Regions from separate parts of the Homo sapiens genome. Here region 2 is linked to region 1. A link means that fine-mapping ties the variant in region 1 to the expression of a gene that starts in the linked region. Tissue or cell type: whole blood. Region 1 holds a variant in brackets; the other region holds the start of a gene. All regions are shown on one strand. Distances are from middle to middle.

Region 1 (8,105 bases):
TTTTTGAGACAGAGTCTCACTCTGTCGCCGAGGCTGGAGTGCAGTGGGGCGATCTCAGCTCACTTGAACTTCCGGGTTCAAGCGATTCTCCCACCTCAGCCTCCCAGAGTAGCTGGGACTACAGGCGTGCGCCACCATGTCCACTGCTTTTGGTTATTTTATTATTATTATTTTTGAGGCAGAGTCTCGTTCTGTGGCCCAGGCTGGAGTATGTTGGCACCATCTTGGCTCACTGCAACCACTGCTTCCCGGTTTCAAGCAGTTCTCCCGTCTCAGCCTCCCAAGTAGCTGGGACTACAGACCCGTGCCACCACGCCTGGCTAATTTCTGTATTTTTAGTAGCGATGGGGTTTCACTATGTTGGCCAGGCTGGTCTCGAACTCCTGACCTCATGATCCGCCCGCCTCAGCCTCCCAAAGCGCTGGGATTACAGGCGTGAGCCACCACGCCCGGCCTCACCTATGACTCTTTCTAGGCAACATCTAGGTCATGACTTCAACAACCGCGTATTATACACAGATGACAAATGTTTATCTTAAATGCCAGAATGATATACATAGAACTTAATACACATTTACGCCAGGGTGTACCACGAACATCTCAAATTCAGCATATCCAAATCTGAAATGAATATATTACCTCTCAAACTTTATCCACTCCCTGTATTCACAGACGTTGCAGATGACACCACGAGCTCCCCTTTTGCTCAGGCAAATCTAAGAATTCTCATTTAACATTTGTTAAATTCAACTTGTGAAATGAATGAATGAATTCCTTCTTGTCCTTTGAGAAAAGAAAAACTTTTATCTGAGAAATGCAAGTCCTTTAAACTGTCAGGCCCAGAAAGACATTCAAATGAGACCCCAATCATGTCCTACTCCTCCCTTACAAGCTATGTATTCTTCTCCTGAAACTGCCTGCAATTGCCACAAGTAGCTATAAAGTAACCTAAAAATGATGCACTGGACACAAATAATCCGCACACTGTAGTTTAACAATGTATAGCCAATCACTAATCAATGTTATGTGTGTAAACCAATGAGAATTCCTGACAAACAATTTTGCATCAGACTGCTCCCTGTCCCCCTCTTTTACCTTAAACAAAACCCTACTTGTAACAAAGCCTGGATGGAGCTCATCTCCAAGGTTACTTGTGTCTGAGTCTTCTGGGCAGCTGTCCTCACTTGGGCTCAAGTAAACTCTTTATATTTTGTGCCTCAGCCTCTTCCTTTTAGGTCGACATATTCACACCCCCATCCATTCAAATGCCAGGTCCAGGCAGGTCTCCAACTCCTTACTCTTTATTTGTTTGTTTGTTTGTTTATTTACAGAGTCTCACTCTGTCCCCCAGGCTGGAGTGCAGTGGCATGATCTCGGCTCACTGCAACCTCTACCTCCCGGGTTCAAGCAATTCTCCTGCCTGCCTCAGCCTCCCAAGTAGCTGGGATTACAGGCGCCCGCCACCACGCCCGGCTAATTTTTTGTATTTTTAGTAGAGACGGGGTTTCACCAGTTGGCCAGGCTGATCTCAAACTCCTGACCTCAGGTGATCCACCCGCCTCAGCCTCCCAAAGTGCTGGAATTACAGGTGTGAGCCACAGTGCCCAGCCTCCTTACTCTTTCTTTATTTAGATATCATGATTTCTCTTCTTATTCACCTCTAATCAGTTTTCCATATTGTTGCTAGAGCGGTCTCCAAGAAATAATCTTGGGCCGGGTGCAGTGGCTCACACCTGTAATCCCAGCACTTTGGGAGGCCAAGGCGGGTGGATTGCCTGAAGTCAGGACTTCAAGACCAGACTGGCCAACAGGGTGAAACGCCATCTCTACAAAAATACAAAAATTAGCTGGTTGTGATGGCACATACCTGTAATCCCAGCTACTCAGGAGGCTGAGGCGGGAGAATTGCTTGAGCCCAGGAGGAGAAGGTTGCAGTGAGCCGAGATCATGCCACTGCACTCCAGCCTAGGCAACAGCAAGACTCTGTCTCAAAAAAGAAAATAATAATAATAATAATAATAATAATAATAATAATAATAATCTTGAAGCCCTTCATGATCTGACATAACCTCAAATGATCCAGCTGACTTTGAATCCAACATGAATGAACAAATGAATGAATGAGTGAAACAATTTTGAACCACATGTAGTAAGTACCCTGAACATGTCATACTCATTTGTGTTTCTGTGTCCTTGCAGGAGTTAACTCTTTGCCTTTAATGTCTTTTTTTTTTTTTGAGACAGAGTCTTGCACTGTCGCCCAGGCTGGAGTGCAGTGGTGCGATCTCAGCGCACTGCAAGCTCTGCCTCCCAGGTTCACACCATTCTCCTCCCTCAGCCTCCTGAGTAGCTGGGACTACAGGTGCCTGCCACCACGCCCAGCTAATTTTTTGTACTTTTAGTAGAGACGGGGTTTCACCGTGTTAGCCAGGATGGTCTCGATCTTCTAACCTCGTGATCTGCCCACCTCAGCCTCCGAAAGTGCTGGGATTACAGGTGTGAGCCACCGCACCCAGCCTGCCTTTAATGTTTTCTGCTTAGTGTTTCCTAAGATCAACTACTGCTTATCTTTGAAGAGTTGACTTAAGGTCAACTCTTGTCCTGATAGGTACATTCTCTCCTGGATTGCCACAACTCTTGTCCTGATAGGTACATTCTCTCCTGGATTGCCACTATTTTTGTAATTATCTAATTATATTTTAATGACTTCTTATCTGCCACCAAACTATAAGCGCCCTTTGGTGATTCAGGACAGTGCCTTTCTCAACATGTTTTTGTACAATGAAGGCCTTTGAAATACATGAAAGCTTTCCAAATGCCTATAAACACTACAGCATTAAATATGAGTCTGTTGCTCAGCAGAGATTAAAACAAAGTCTGATGTTGAAAACACTTACATGGCCAGGCCTGGTGGCTCATGCCTGTAATCCCAGCACTTTGGAAGGCCAAGGCGGGTGGATCATCTGTGGTCAGGAGTTCGAGACCAGCCTGGCCAACATGGTGAAACCCTGTCTCTACTAATAACACAAAAATTAGGCCGGGCACGGTGGCTCACGCCTGTAATCCCAGCATTTTAGGAGGCCGAGGCGGGCAGATCAGGAAGTCAAGAGATCGAGACCATCCTGGCCAACATGGTGAAACCATGTCTCTACTAAAAACACAAAAATTGGCCGGGCATGGTGGCTCATGCCTGTAATCCCAGCCCTTTGGGAGCCTGAGGCGGGCAGATCACCTGAGGTCAGGAGTTCGAGACCAGCTTGGTCAACATGGTGAAACCACGTCTCTACTAAAAATACAAAAATTGGCTGGGTGCAGTGGCTCACGCCTGTAATCCCAGCATTTGGGAGGCTGAGGCGGGCGGATCACCTGAGGTAC[A/G]GAGTTCAGGACTAGCCTGGCCAACGTGGAGAAACCCTGTCTCTACTGAAAATACAAAAAAATTAGCCAGGTGTGGTAGTGGGTGCCTGTAGTCCCAGCTACTCGGGAGGCTGAGTTAGGAGAATCGCTTGAACCCGGGAGGTGGAGGTTGCAGTGAGCCGAGATCGCGTCACTGCACTCCAGCCTGGGCAACAGAGCGAGACTCTGTCTCAAAAAAAAAAATACAAAAATTAGCCGGGCATGGTGGTGCACACTACTCTGGAGGCTGAGGCAGAAGAATTGCTTAAACTCAGGAGGTGGAGGTTGCAGTGAGCTAAGATCTTGACACTGCACTCCAGCCTGGTGACAGAGCGAGACTCCCATCTCAAAAAAAAAAAAAGAATAAAATACCTAGGAATACAGCTAACCGGGGAGGGAGGTGAAAGATCTCTACAATGAGAATTACAAAACACTGCTGAAAGAAATTAGAAACAATACAAACAAATTGAAAAATCTTCCATGCTCATGATCATGGATAGGAAGAATCAATATTGTTAAAATGGCCAAACTGTCCAAGCAATTTACAGATTCAATACAGATTCAATGCTATCTCTATCAAACTACTATTGACATTTTTCTTTTTCTTTCTTTCTTTTTTTTTTTTTCGGTGGCGAGGGACATAATCTCACTCTGTCGTCCAGGCTGGAGTGCAGTGGCCCAACCTTAGCTCACTGCAACCTCTGCCTCTCAGGCTCAAGAGTTTCTCCTGCCTCAGCCTCCCGAGTAGCTAGGATTACAGGCACCTGCCACCGTGCCCGGCTAATTTTTGTATTTGTAGTAGAGACAAGGTTTCGCCAGGTTGGCCAGACTGGTCTTGAACTCCTGACCTTAAGTGATCCACCTGCCTCCCAAAGGAGGCTGAAGCCAACCGATCACTTAAGGTCAAGAGTTCAAAAATTCTAATTTTCACAGAATTAGAAATATACAGCCAGGCACGGTGGCTCATGCCTGTAATCCCAGCAATTTGGGAGGCCGAAGTGGGCAGATCGCTTGAGGTCAACAGTTCGAAACCAGCCTGGCCAACATGGTGAAACCCCATATCTACTAAAAATACAAAACAATTAGCCAGGCGTGGTAGTGGGTGCCTATAATCCCAGCTACTGGAGAGGCTGAGGCAGGAGAACTGCTTGAACCCAGGAGGTGGAGGTTGCAGTGAGCCGAGATTATGCCACTACACTCCAGCCTGGGGCAACACAGCGAGACTCCATCTCAAAAAAAAAAAAAAAAGACATTCTAAAATTCATTTGTAACCAAAAAAGAGCCCAAATAGCCAAAACAATCCAAAGCCAAAACAACTTCAAACCAAACTACAAGGTTACAGTAACCAAAACAGCATGGTACTGGTACCATAGACCAATGGAATAGATTAGACACGTAGACCAATGGAATAGATTAGAAAACCCAAAAATAAAGCCACACACATACAACCATCTGATCTTCAACAAAGCCAACAGTAACAAGCAATGGGGAAAGGACTCCCTATTCCATAAATGGCACTGATATAACTAGCTAGACACAGACAGAAGTTGAAAGTATACCCCCTCCTTACACCATATACAAAAATAAACTCAAGATAGATTAAAGACTGAAATGTAAAACCCCAAAACTATAAAAACTCAGAAGAAAACCTAGGAAATACCATTCTGGTTGTGGGCCCAGGCAAAGACTCCATGATGTCGACTCCAAAAGCAATTGCAACAAAAACAAAAATTGACAAGTAGGACCTAATTAAACTAAAGAGCTGCACAGAAAAATCAATTATCAACAGAGTAAACAGAGAAGCTACAAAATGGGAGAAACTATTTGCAAACTATGCTTCTGACAAAAGTGTAATATTCAGAATCAATAAGAAACTTAAATCAACAAGCAAAACCCAAGGAAACCCATTAAATAATGGACCAAGGTTAATTTGTGCAGTAGCAATAGAAAAAAAAGGAAAAAGATGGGCAAAGGAATTGAATAGACACTTCTCAGAAGAAGACATACATGTATGGCTAGGCACCGTGGCTCATGCCTGTAATCCCAGCACGGTGGGAGACAGAGGCAGGCAGATCTCACCTGAGGTCAGGAGTTCCAGACCAGCCTGGTCAACATGGCTAATCCCCAACTCTACTAAAAATACAAATATTAGCCAGATGTGGTGGCACACACCTGTAATCCCAGCTACTCAGGAGTCTGAGGCAAGAGAATCACTTGAACCTGGCAGTCAGAGGTTGCAGTGAGCCAAGATCGTGCCACTGCACTCCAGACTGGGTGACAAAGGAAGACTTCGTCTCAAAACAAAAACAAAAACAAAACAAATTCCAGGCCAGGTGCAGTGACTCACGCCTGTAATCTCAGCAATTTGGGAGGCCGAGGTGGGTGGATCATCCGAGGTCGGGAGTTTAAGACCAGGCTGGCCAATATGTTGAAACCCCGTTTCTACTAAAAATACAAAAAAAAGGCCAGGCACTGTGGCTCACACCTGTAATCCCAGCACTTTGGGAGGCAGAGGCAGGCGGATCATGAGGTCAGGAGATCGAGACCATCCTGGCTAACACAGTGAAACCCCATCTTACTAAAAATACAAAACAAAATTAGTTGGGCATGGTGGCGGGCGCCTGTAGTCCCGGCTACTCAGGAGGCTGAGGTAGGAGAATGGCATGAACCCAGGAGGCGGAGCTTGCAGTGAGCTGAGATTGTGCCACTGCACTCCAGCCTGGGCAACACTGCAAGACTCCGTCTCAAAAAAAAAAAAAAAAAAAAAAGCTGGGCATCATGGTGCATGCCTATAATCCCAGCTACTTGGTAGGCTAAGGCGGGCGAATCACTTGAACCCAGGAAGCAGAGATTGTGGTGAGACAAGATCGGTCCACTGCACTCCAGCCTGGGCAACAGGGTGAGACTCCGTCTCGAAAAAAAAAAAAAAAAAAAAATCCTAGCTAGATTGTTTGCAGAATTTGACAAGCTGATCCTAAAATTCATATGAAATCCAGGGGACCCCCAATAGCCAAAGCAATCTTTTTTTTTTTTTTTTTTGAGATGGAGGTTCGCTCTTGTCGCCCAGGCTGGAGTGCAATGGCGTGATCTCGGTTCACTGTAACCTCCGCCTCCTGGGTTCATACAATTCTCCTGCCTCAGCCTCCTGAGTAGCTGGGATTACAGGTGCCTGCCATCGCGCCCAACTAATTTTTGCATTTTTAGTAAAGATGGGGCTCACCAGGTTGTAAAGGCTGGTCTCGAACCCCTGACCTCAGGTGATCCACCCACCATGGCCTCCTAAAGTGCTGGGATTACAGGCGTGAGCTGCCACGCCCCGCCTATATTGTATTTTCTGAAGTTTTTGCAATTGGTTTGTGTTACCTTAATAATTAGAATAAAGCAATTAAAGCAAAAAGATTTTAAATGCTTGTAATGTTAGTGGGCATACAATTTTTGCTATGCTTCTTTAATTTAATATCATGTGGGCACAGTGGCTCACGCCTGTAATCCCAGCACTTTGGGAGGCCAAGGTGGGTGGATCAGGAGGTCAGGAGTTTGAGACTAGCCTGACAGATATGGTGAAACCCCATCTCTACTAAAAATACAAAAAAATTAGTCGGATGTGGTGACGTGCACCTGTAATCCCAGCAACTCAGGAGGCTGAGACAGGAGAATTGCTTGAAACTGGGAGGCGGAGGTTGCAGTGAGCCGAGATCGTGCCACTGCACTCCAGCCTGGGCGACAGAGCAGACTCCATCTCAAAAAATATATATATGTATATGTATATATATAATAATAATTTAATATAATGTGAAGTCTTCTTACCTCTTCCTTGACTAGAGGAATTTAGTGAAAACAGCATCTTCTCCCTGGGCTGTGGGCAGGAAATGGAACCCCTAAGCTTTGCTTTGTCAGATGAGGAGACCTCAGGCTAAGGTGGGAATGGAAATAGTTTAGAAACAGAAAAAGAAGAGCAGTTTCTCAGAGAGCCAGAGAAGGAGGATGTTGTCCTAAAAATAGATTAGAATGTGGTGGCTGGAGTCAGGCATTCTGAACTAATCTTCAAGTCTTACTATTCAGGAAGCTGTCAGACAAGGCAGACCAAAAGCCAATAGGATCAGGTCCCTGGAAACCAGCTGGTGAAGCTGGAAAGAAGAAGCCGACTATGGTTGCAGGGTAGCCAGGGTCTGCACCTTCCAATACTGGGGCAGCAGTGAGTTCTGTCCCCAAACTGTTTGGGGAAAGGCCTAGGCTCCTGTCAAGGGCAATCATCCAGGCCAACCTCCCTGGATTGACATCACTCAAGTTTCAAAAGAATGGAGGATGCTCAGCTGGACTTTCATTTACTTATTTTGAGACAAGGTCTCACTCACTCAGGCTGGAGTGCAGTGGCACGATCTCGGCTCACTGCAATCTCCGCCTCCTGGGCTCTAACGATCCTCCCACCTCAGCCTCCCAAGTGGCTGGGACTACAGGCGTGCAACACCACGCCCAGCTAAACTTTTTTGTATTTTTTTTTGTAGAGACAGGATTTTGCCATGTTGCCTAGGCTGGTCTCAAACTCTTAAGCTCAAGTGATCCTCCCATCTAGGCCTCCCAAAATGCTGGGATTACAGGTGTGAACCACTGCACTTGGCCTCAGCTGGCCTTTCATTTGTACTGGGTGGAGAGAGTGCTGGACAGGAGTCCAGGTGGTTCAGGCTTTGAGGCTTGGCCCTCTGCCCCATTTC
Region 2 (8,105 bases), 61 kb before region 1:
GAAAACAAAATTAATTTTCACACATTCCTCAATTCCTTGCACAAAAAACAACTACATTACTTGCCTAAATGCTGAGTCTGCAAGAAAGGGAAAGAAGTGACAGGAAGAGATTCCTACAAAATCCAATTACCTCAGTCTATATTAAACACAGCAAGCTCTATGCTTATTTGGGTTTTTTTATTTTTTATTTTTAGTTGTATTTGTTTATTTGAGACAGGGTCTCACTCTGTTGCTCAGGCTGGAGTGCAGTGTCACAATCTCAGTTCACTGCAACCTCTGCCTCTGAGACTCAAGTGACCTTCTCACCTCAGCTTCCTGAGCAGCTGGGACCACAGGTGCATGCCACCACACCCAGCTAATTTTTTGTACTTTCTGTAGAGATAAGAGTCTTGCCGTGCTGCCCAGGCTGGTCTCAAACTCCTGGGCTCAAGCAATTCACCCACCTCAGCCTCCCAAAGTACTGGGATTACAGGTGTGAGCTACTGCGCCCAGCCTCCATGTTTATTTGTTGCAGACAGAGAGGAATGAATCTTAACCTTTCTCCACAAAACAAGAAGGAACACCGAGCATCTTTGATTTGCTTATTCTGGGTTCACTTTTTAAGAATGTAGATGCTACCTGAGCTATGTAAGTTAACTGTGTGGAGTGCACCTTCTTAGAGACTCCTTAATACCTTCTTGGAGAACCTGGCTACAAATTACAATTTCCTGTAGTTAGTTACTGAGTATGATATCATCAGTTTGGGAGCTACAAGGCAGGCTGAGGAGAGAAAATGCACCCTGGAGACTCTCAGGAAGAACCTGCTATTTGTACTCTGCTTTGTTTTATTCAAAGATTCCCTCTGGGAGTGGTGGCTCACGCCTGTAATCCTAGCATTTTGGGAGGCCGAGGTGGGCAGATCACTTGAGGTCAAGAATTCAAGACCAGCCTGGCCAACATGGTGAAACCCCATCTCTACTAAAGATACAAAAATTAGCCTGATGTGGTGGCACGCGCGGCTCATAATCCCAGCTACTCGGGAGGCTGAGGCAGAATTGCTTGAACCTGGGAGACGGAGGTTTCAGTGAGCCACTATTGCAGCACTGCATTCCAGCTGGGGCAACAGAGTGAGACTGTGTCTCAAAAAAAAAAAAAAAAAAAGATTCCCTCTGGATAGTTCAGATTCCCCTACCAACCCACCAGAAATGAAATGAAGAGGGAAAAAAAATCCTTCCAACACTGCATACTCTAACAAAGGCCACCTATCGGAAATGTGGTCTCGGCATTCCACTACTGCAACCACATTTTTAAAAAAACAGAAAATACCCCTCTTTACACATTTTATACAACTCATCCCCCTTTCTTTATTATCCCAATAAACTTTCACAAGGATATAATTTTAGCTTGCCAAAAAGCCAGATAATTAACACATATCCATTAAGACAGTAACATTTCTTTTTTAATGAAATGTTGAAAGACAGTTTTTAAACATTTTTGAAGGTCTACTTGATGAGATTATTTTTATTTACATTCTTTTTTTATAGATGAGGACCCTGACAGGGTTATCTCTAACTTGCTCCCAATCACAAAGATAGTCAATAGGAGAGCAGGAATATTACCCTAAACTCATGCTCTCGCTAACAGTTAACTTCCCAGCTTCATTCTTATGCTCTATCATTCGCAAAACATTCTATCTTCTCAAACCAAGTGTTCATACAATTTGACACTCAAAAACACGCATAAAAAAAAGTTTATTCCACCACCTTAGTTTCTTTTACTGAGAAGAATTATGTTGTTTTTAATATTTCTCAACATGTTAGTGTTTTCTAAAGACCTCCAGCCAGGCCAATGAGATGCAGTTTAATGTCATGAGAAGAGCACTGGACCAAGCAATTAACTAGTGTATACAGGCCCCACTGTCCTTCCTGGGCCTCATTTTCCCCTCTGAGGTCCCTTCCAACACCAATACCCTGAACCGAATTCCAAAAATTACATCAAAGTCACAAACTTACTACATATGAAAAAGATGAAAAACATCTGTACTATAAGAATTTGAAGACCTTAAAAGATAAACTTGAACAATTATTAGGTACTCATCAAAATAATTTTTTTTTTTTGGACGGAGTCTCGCTCTGTCGCCCAGGCTAGAGTGCTGGAGTGCAGTGGCGCGATCTGGGCTCACTGCGAGCTCCGCCTCCCGGGTTCACGCCATTCTCCTGCCTCAGCCTCCTGAGTAGCTGGGACTACAGGCGCCCGCCACCACGCCCGGCTAATTTTTTGTATTTTTAGTAGAGACGGGGTTTCACCCTGTAAGCCCGGATGGTCTCGATCTCCTGACTTCGTGATCCGCCCGCCTCAGCCTCCCAAAGTGCTGGGATTACAGGCGTGAGCCACCGCGCCCGGCCTAAAACTAAAATTTTTTTAAAGTAAATTAGAAACCATAAAACTACCCCGACAAAAAGCCTAATATTAATTATATTACTGCTTCATATTTTCTCCACCTGCTATTGAGGAAATAGCTCATTTTTTTCTAACCTTGTTAAAGCATGAATTTATCATGCTTTTTTCTTCTTTTTCTTTTTTCCCAGACAGAGTCTCGCTTTATCACCCAGACTGGAGTGTAGTGGCGCAATCACCCAGACTGGCGCAATCTCAGCTCACTGCAACCTCCCCCTCCTGGGTTAAAGCGATCCTCCTACCTCAGCCTCCTGAGTAGCTGGGATTACAGGCACGCGCCACGACGCCCGGCTAATTTTTGTATTTTTAGTAGAGACGGGGGTTTCACCATGTTGGCCAAATTGGTCTCGAACTCCTGACCTCAGGTGACCCGCCCGCCTCGGCCTCCCAAAGTGCTGGGATTACCCCTGAGCCGCCGGGTGGTGGGCCACCGCGCCCCGCCTAATTTTTTTTTCATAAGAAACACTGGGCCGGGCGCGGTGGCTCACGCCTGTAATCCCAGCACTTTGGGAGGCCGAGGCGGGTGGATCATGAGGTCAGGAGATCGAGACCATCCTGGCTAACAAGGTGAAACCCCGTCTCTACTAAAAATACAAAAAATTAGCCGGGCGCGGTGGCGGGCGCCTGTAGTCCCAGCTACTCGGGAGGCTGAGGCAGGAGAATGGCGTGAACCCGGGAAGCGGAGCTTGCAGTGAGCCGAGATTGCGCCACTGCAGTCCGCAGTCCGGCCTGGGCGACAGAGCGAGACTCCGTCTCAAAAAAAAAAAAAAAAAAAAAAAGAAACACTGGACTTTTTCTGGTGCCCAAAAACAAAACTGTCTTGTCATCGTTGAAGCCGAGTAAGATTAGTCAACAGGATAATCACTTTCGAAAGAGAAACTTTACAGTGACAGAAAAGTGAAAAGGAGTCCCCCTCATCAGGATGACACAACCTTAAAGTACAACCCGACAAACCTCCACCCACTTGAAACCCACTAACTGGAAACTCCAGACAAAAACTTATTTTCAAAACTGTTACAATTCAAAGACTCCAATGACAGTGCAGTGGAAAATTCACGGGGACTGTATAATTTTCACGGCCTTCTGCAGTGAGTGCCAAATCTGGTCAGGGCCCCATCTTTGACTCCCCTCATCACTTTCCCTTTCAAATATGACTTGAAACGCATCAGAACACACCAAGCCTCTCCAACTACAATGCTGCTACCCTTTTATTCACAAACGCCTCTGTCCTCATAAAGGACATAAATTACTTTTCAAAAAAGGCATGGCCCCGGGATACAAGCCCTTTCCAAGGCTAAGGGAGTTCCTACTCTTCTTGGTGCCGCCCAAGTTCACTTTATTACTTCATATCCCATCCAGACGCGCAGAGCTGCAATCTGACTCAGGGGGCCCAGCCCAGGGCTGGGGTATAACGGTTTTGAGGAACTAGTATCACAAGCTTCTTGGGAAGTGGCCAGATAAACTCACCAAGTTTTTGTTTTCCTTTTTTTTAAGTCTGGGTGGAACTTACTTTCACTAGGACGTGGGACGCCTTCCCTCCCTAATGGGTGCCAGAGGACAAGCTTTCCTTTATTTTAAACGAAGTCACTCAACCTACACCAAACTGAGAACACACAACCCTCCCTCTTTCTGGTCGCCGAAGACGTGGCCACTGCGCAGCGGGCCGTAGGTTTGGACCCCTCATGGCTCAGAGCCCCTCATCCGTTTCCCCCCTCCAGTCCAAAGCCCCCTTCGCCCGCGCCCGCCCTGGTCCTCCCGGCCGACACTCGCCCGGCTCCCGGGACAAAGCGGGGCTGAAGGAAGGTTTCTTCTGGGGTCCCCGACGACAGCGGGCGCGGGAAAGCGCCCCGGGCTCGGCGCGCACTCACCCGACAGCTCGTCCGGCTCCAGCCCGGTCTCCGTGTCCAGTCCGCAGATGACAAAGTAGTCGGCGAAGCGACTGGGCGCCGAGCCCCCTCCGCCGCCGCCGCCACTCATGGCGCCGGGGCCGAGACCGGCCGGGCAGTGCGGAGCGGCACCGAGCCCCCGCAACCCGGGCGCCCGCCCGTCCGCCCTCAGGCCGCCCCTCCCGCCGCCGCCGCTACCGCGGCTCGGGCCGCCGCCCCCGGCCCTGGCCCGGTCCCCTCGGCCGCCGCGGCTGCCGTGACGGGGCGGGGGGGCACCGGGCCGCCCCGCACCGCATCCTGGATGCCTTCCCCTCCGCGCCGCCGCCGCTGCAGCTAGCCGAGAGCGCCGCGGCCCGAGCGAGCCTGGAGAAGGGCGGAGAGCGCGTGGACAGCCCCCACCGTGACCCTCCTCCTACCGCGCCTGCGCAGGCGCCGTCTGGGAGGGGGCGGGCTCCTGGGGGAAAGGATGACGTGATGCTCTTCGGACCCCGCCGGCCGCAGCTTCCCGGGAGGTCGCCGCAGCGCAGCCGGTGACTGCTTGGTCGCCCGCAACTGCCACTCCCCCGGGATTGAGACTCCTTTAGGGAGGGCTGAGGAGGTGCGAGAAGAGTGGGCGCAGCCTGCAGAGCCGGGCATTTGGCCCATGCTCTGCCCCCAACCACCCACCCAGCAAGCAGAGGTCCAGAGATCTTAGCGCGGCCTTGCCATGAGGATGGGGTCTCACGACTGAGCTCGGAAGCTCACCTAATCCTAGCTGCAGCGTGTCAGCCTAGACCCCAGACAGGGCCTTCTCCCTGTCCTCTCTTTTGGCAGGGGCGGATGAGCCGGTTTTATATTTACCCTTATTTTACAGACGGGGAAACTGAGTCTCAGAAAGAAGCAAGGACTTATCCAAGGTTACGCTGAGTCTAAGAGACATAAGCCTGGTCTGGAATCCTGGGCTTGTGGTCAGCTCCCCGTTCCTCGCCGCTCCCACCTCCCAGCCTGCCCTTTTCCCACGCTCTCTCCTTTTTTCTCTGGAAGCCTCCAGAGGCGCCTGCCATTTGGGAGCTCCTCTTCCTCTTCACTCTGTGAAAACTCTCAGATCCACCCCTAAACCTGTTTTCCTGTAAGAGGATAGGGAGGAGGCGAAGGGAAACTTACCTATTGGTCCTTGTCCTAGGACCCTCCGATTTCCTTTCCCATAGAAGCTAGGCAGATGTGTCTTTGTTGGAAACTGGAGATCAGAGGCCAGAAAGGCAACACAGGTATAGTGGTCACTAGCATGGGCTCTAGAAAAAAATGCTCGGATTTCAATCCTGACGATCATTTACTTTTGACCTTGAGCAAGTTAATCTCTAAGTGCCTGGCGTCATGGTTTTTGAGACAATTACATAAGGTAAATGCAAGTACAGGTAAAACAATGAGAATACTGCCTGGAACATGGAAATCACTCAGTAAATATTACAGATTTTTTTTTTCAAGACGGAGTTCTGTCTTGTTGCCCAGGCTGGAGTGCAATGGCGTAATCTCGGCTCACTGCACCTCTGCCTCCCAGGTTCAAGTGATTCTCCTGCCTCAGCCACCCAAGTAGCTAGGATTACAGGCGCGCACCACCACACTCGGCTAATTTTTTGTATTCAGTAGAGACAGGGATTCACCGTGTTGGTCAGGCTGGTCTCGAACTCCTGACCTCAGGTGATCCGCCCTCCTCTGCCTCCTAAAGTGCTGGGATTACAGGCATGAGCCAATGAGCCCCCAGCCTGGATTATTATTATTGTTCCAGAAGGAAGTACTCTTACGGTTTGTTCTGGGAGGCTGCCACTAAGAGCTGTAGAAGGCAGCTGGCTTCCCCAAAGGCTGAGCCTAGGCTCTCTCCTAGGTTCTCCTGGGTACTTCTCTCAAATATTGTTTCCCTTGGGGAGGTTTACCTAGAGGTTATAGCCATTGTCTCTCGGAGCCATAGCACCTGTTCCTCCCTGTATCTAACCTGCCTGAACTAGGGGGAGAAAAGTGGGGAGGAGAAGGTTGCTTCAAAACGCCCATTCATGGTGATGCTCCACCCGTATCCTGCATGCTGGGGACACAGAGACAGTAGAGGGGGATTAGTGAGTTAAACAGTCACAGAGGCTGGGCGTGGTGGCTCACACCTGTAATCCCAGAACTTGGGGAGGCCAAGGCTGGCGGATCGCTTAAGGTCAGAAGTTCAAGACCAGCCTGACCAATATGGTGAAATCCCATCTCTACCAAAAATATAAAATTAGCAGGGTGTGGTGGCAGGCAACTTTAGTCCCAGCTCCTCAGGAGGCTGAGGCAGGAGAATCGCTTCAACTCAAGAGGCAGAGGTTGCAGTAAGCCGAGATCGTGCCACTGCACTCTAGCCTGGGCAACAGAATGAGGCTCTACCTCTAAATAAATAAATAAATAAATAAATAAATATGCCAGGCGTGGTGGCTGACACCTGTAATCCCAGCACTTTAGGTGGCCAAGGCAGGCAGATCACGAGGTCAGGAGATCAAGACCATCCTGGCCAACATGGTGAAACCCCATCTGTACTAAAATTATAAAAATTAGCTGGGTATGGTGGTGCCTGTAATCCCAGCTACTCAGGAGGATAAGGCAGGAGAATTGCTTAAACTCGGGAGGTGGAGGTTGCAGTGAGCCAAGATGGCGCCACTGCACTCCAGCCTGGCAACAGAGACACCCTGAAAAAAAAAAAAGAAAAAAAGAAAGTTACAGAGCACAGAAGGAGGACATCTTTCCAGATTGGGGAATGGTCAGGGAAGGTTTCCAGAAGGAGGTATATACTCTGACCTGAGTTCCAGAGGATCAACAGGAAGTTTCTCAGGTAAAAAGGGGCAGGGAAAGATGTTTAACTCAGTATGTGTAACAACAGGGAGCAACAGATAAAAGGGTATGTTCAGGCATCAACAAGTAATTCATTAACATTAAGATGGGAGATGGAGAGTTTAAAGGGAATGAAACCAGGGCAGGGGAGGAAGAAGGAGAACAGAGGAAGGAGGCATGGATTCAAATACCAGGCTAAAGAATTTATCCTCGGCCAGGCGTCGTGGTTCACACTCACGCTGGTAATCCCAACACTTTGGGCAGCTGAGGCAGGAGGACTGCTTGAACCCAGGAGTTTGAGACCAGAGTGGAGAACATAATGTGACCCCTGTCATAAATAAATAAATAAATAGTATTTTTTAGAAATAATTTATCCTATAAGATATATGAGTTGAGGATGAGTGAGGTAAAGTAAAGGAATTCAAGCCAAGGAGTGATATCTGACCCAAATCTGAGAATGATCACTCTAGGGGTGATGTGGAAAAAGAAATTTGAGAAAGGAATAAACGTCCTCAACTGAAAAGTCCAGAAACTTTTTATCCAAGGTGTCCAGGGTGATCTGGTGCTAGACGACCTCTCATATTAACTCAACTCGTAAAACACAAGTTAAAAACGAATGCATAACTGTATTAATTTGCCCTGGGAAATGTAACTGCTCAGAAGCCCAGAATACTCAACTGTGAAGTGATCTCCTTCCCGGTAGGAAATAAGTTTGGCAGAGTGATTGCTTCTTAGAGAGTCAGAAAATATAGAAAGGGATGCTCTTAAGATTTTTTCTTTTTTTTTTTTTTTTTTTTTCTGAGAGAGTCTCGCTCTGTCACCCAGGCTAGAGTGCAGTGGCGCCATCTCGGCTCACTGCAACCTCCGCCTCCCAGGTTCAAACGATTCTCCTGCCTCAGCCTCCCAAGTAGCTGGGACTACAGGCGCGCGCACCATGCCTGGCTAATTTTTTTTTTT

Evidence for each region. PIP is the estimated chance that this variant, and not a neighbour inherited with it, causes the effect.
Region 2: DENND5A starts here. The variant in region 1 is fine-mapped to the expression of DENND5A in whole blood (TOPMed, PIP above 0.99).

What each region holds. Positions count from the first base shown.
Region 1 is chr11:9,321,700-9,329,804 of GRCh38, forward strand. No RefSeq gene overlaps it. Among named protein-coding and RNA genes, the nearest start is that of TMEM41B, 11 kb to the left of the region's middle. The variant A/G (reference allele first, on the strand shown) is at 3,376.
Region 2 is chr11:9,260,657-9,268,761 of GRCh38, forward strand. It overlaps DENND5A (DENN domain containing 5A), which reads right to left and starts at 4,694. Exons shown (of 23, transcript NM_015213.4): 1 at 4,305-4,694. The coding sequence starts at 4,413. RefSeq lists silencers at 207-266, 4,136-4,495, 4,546-4,645 and enhancers at 3,226-3,565, 3,726-3,845, 4,926-4,995.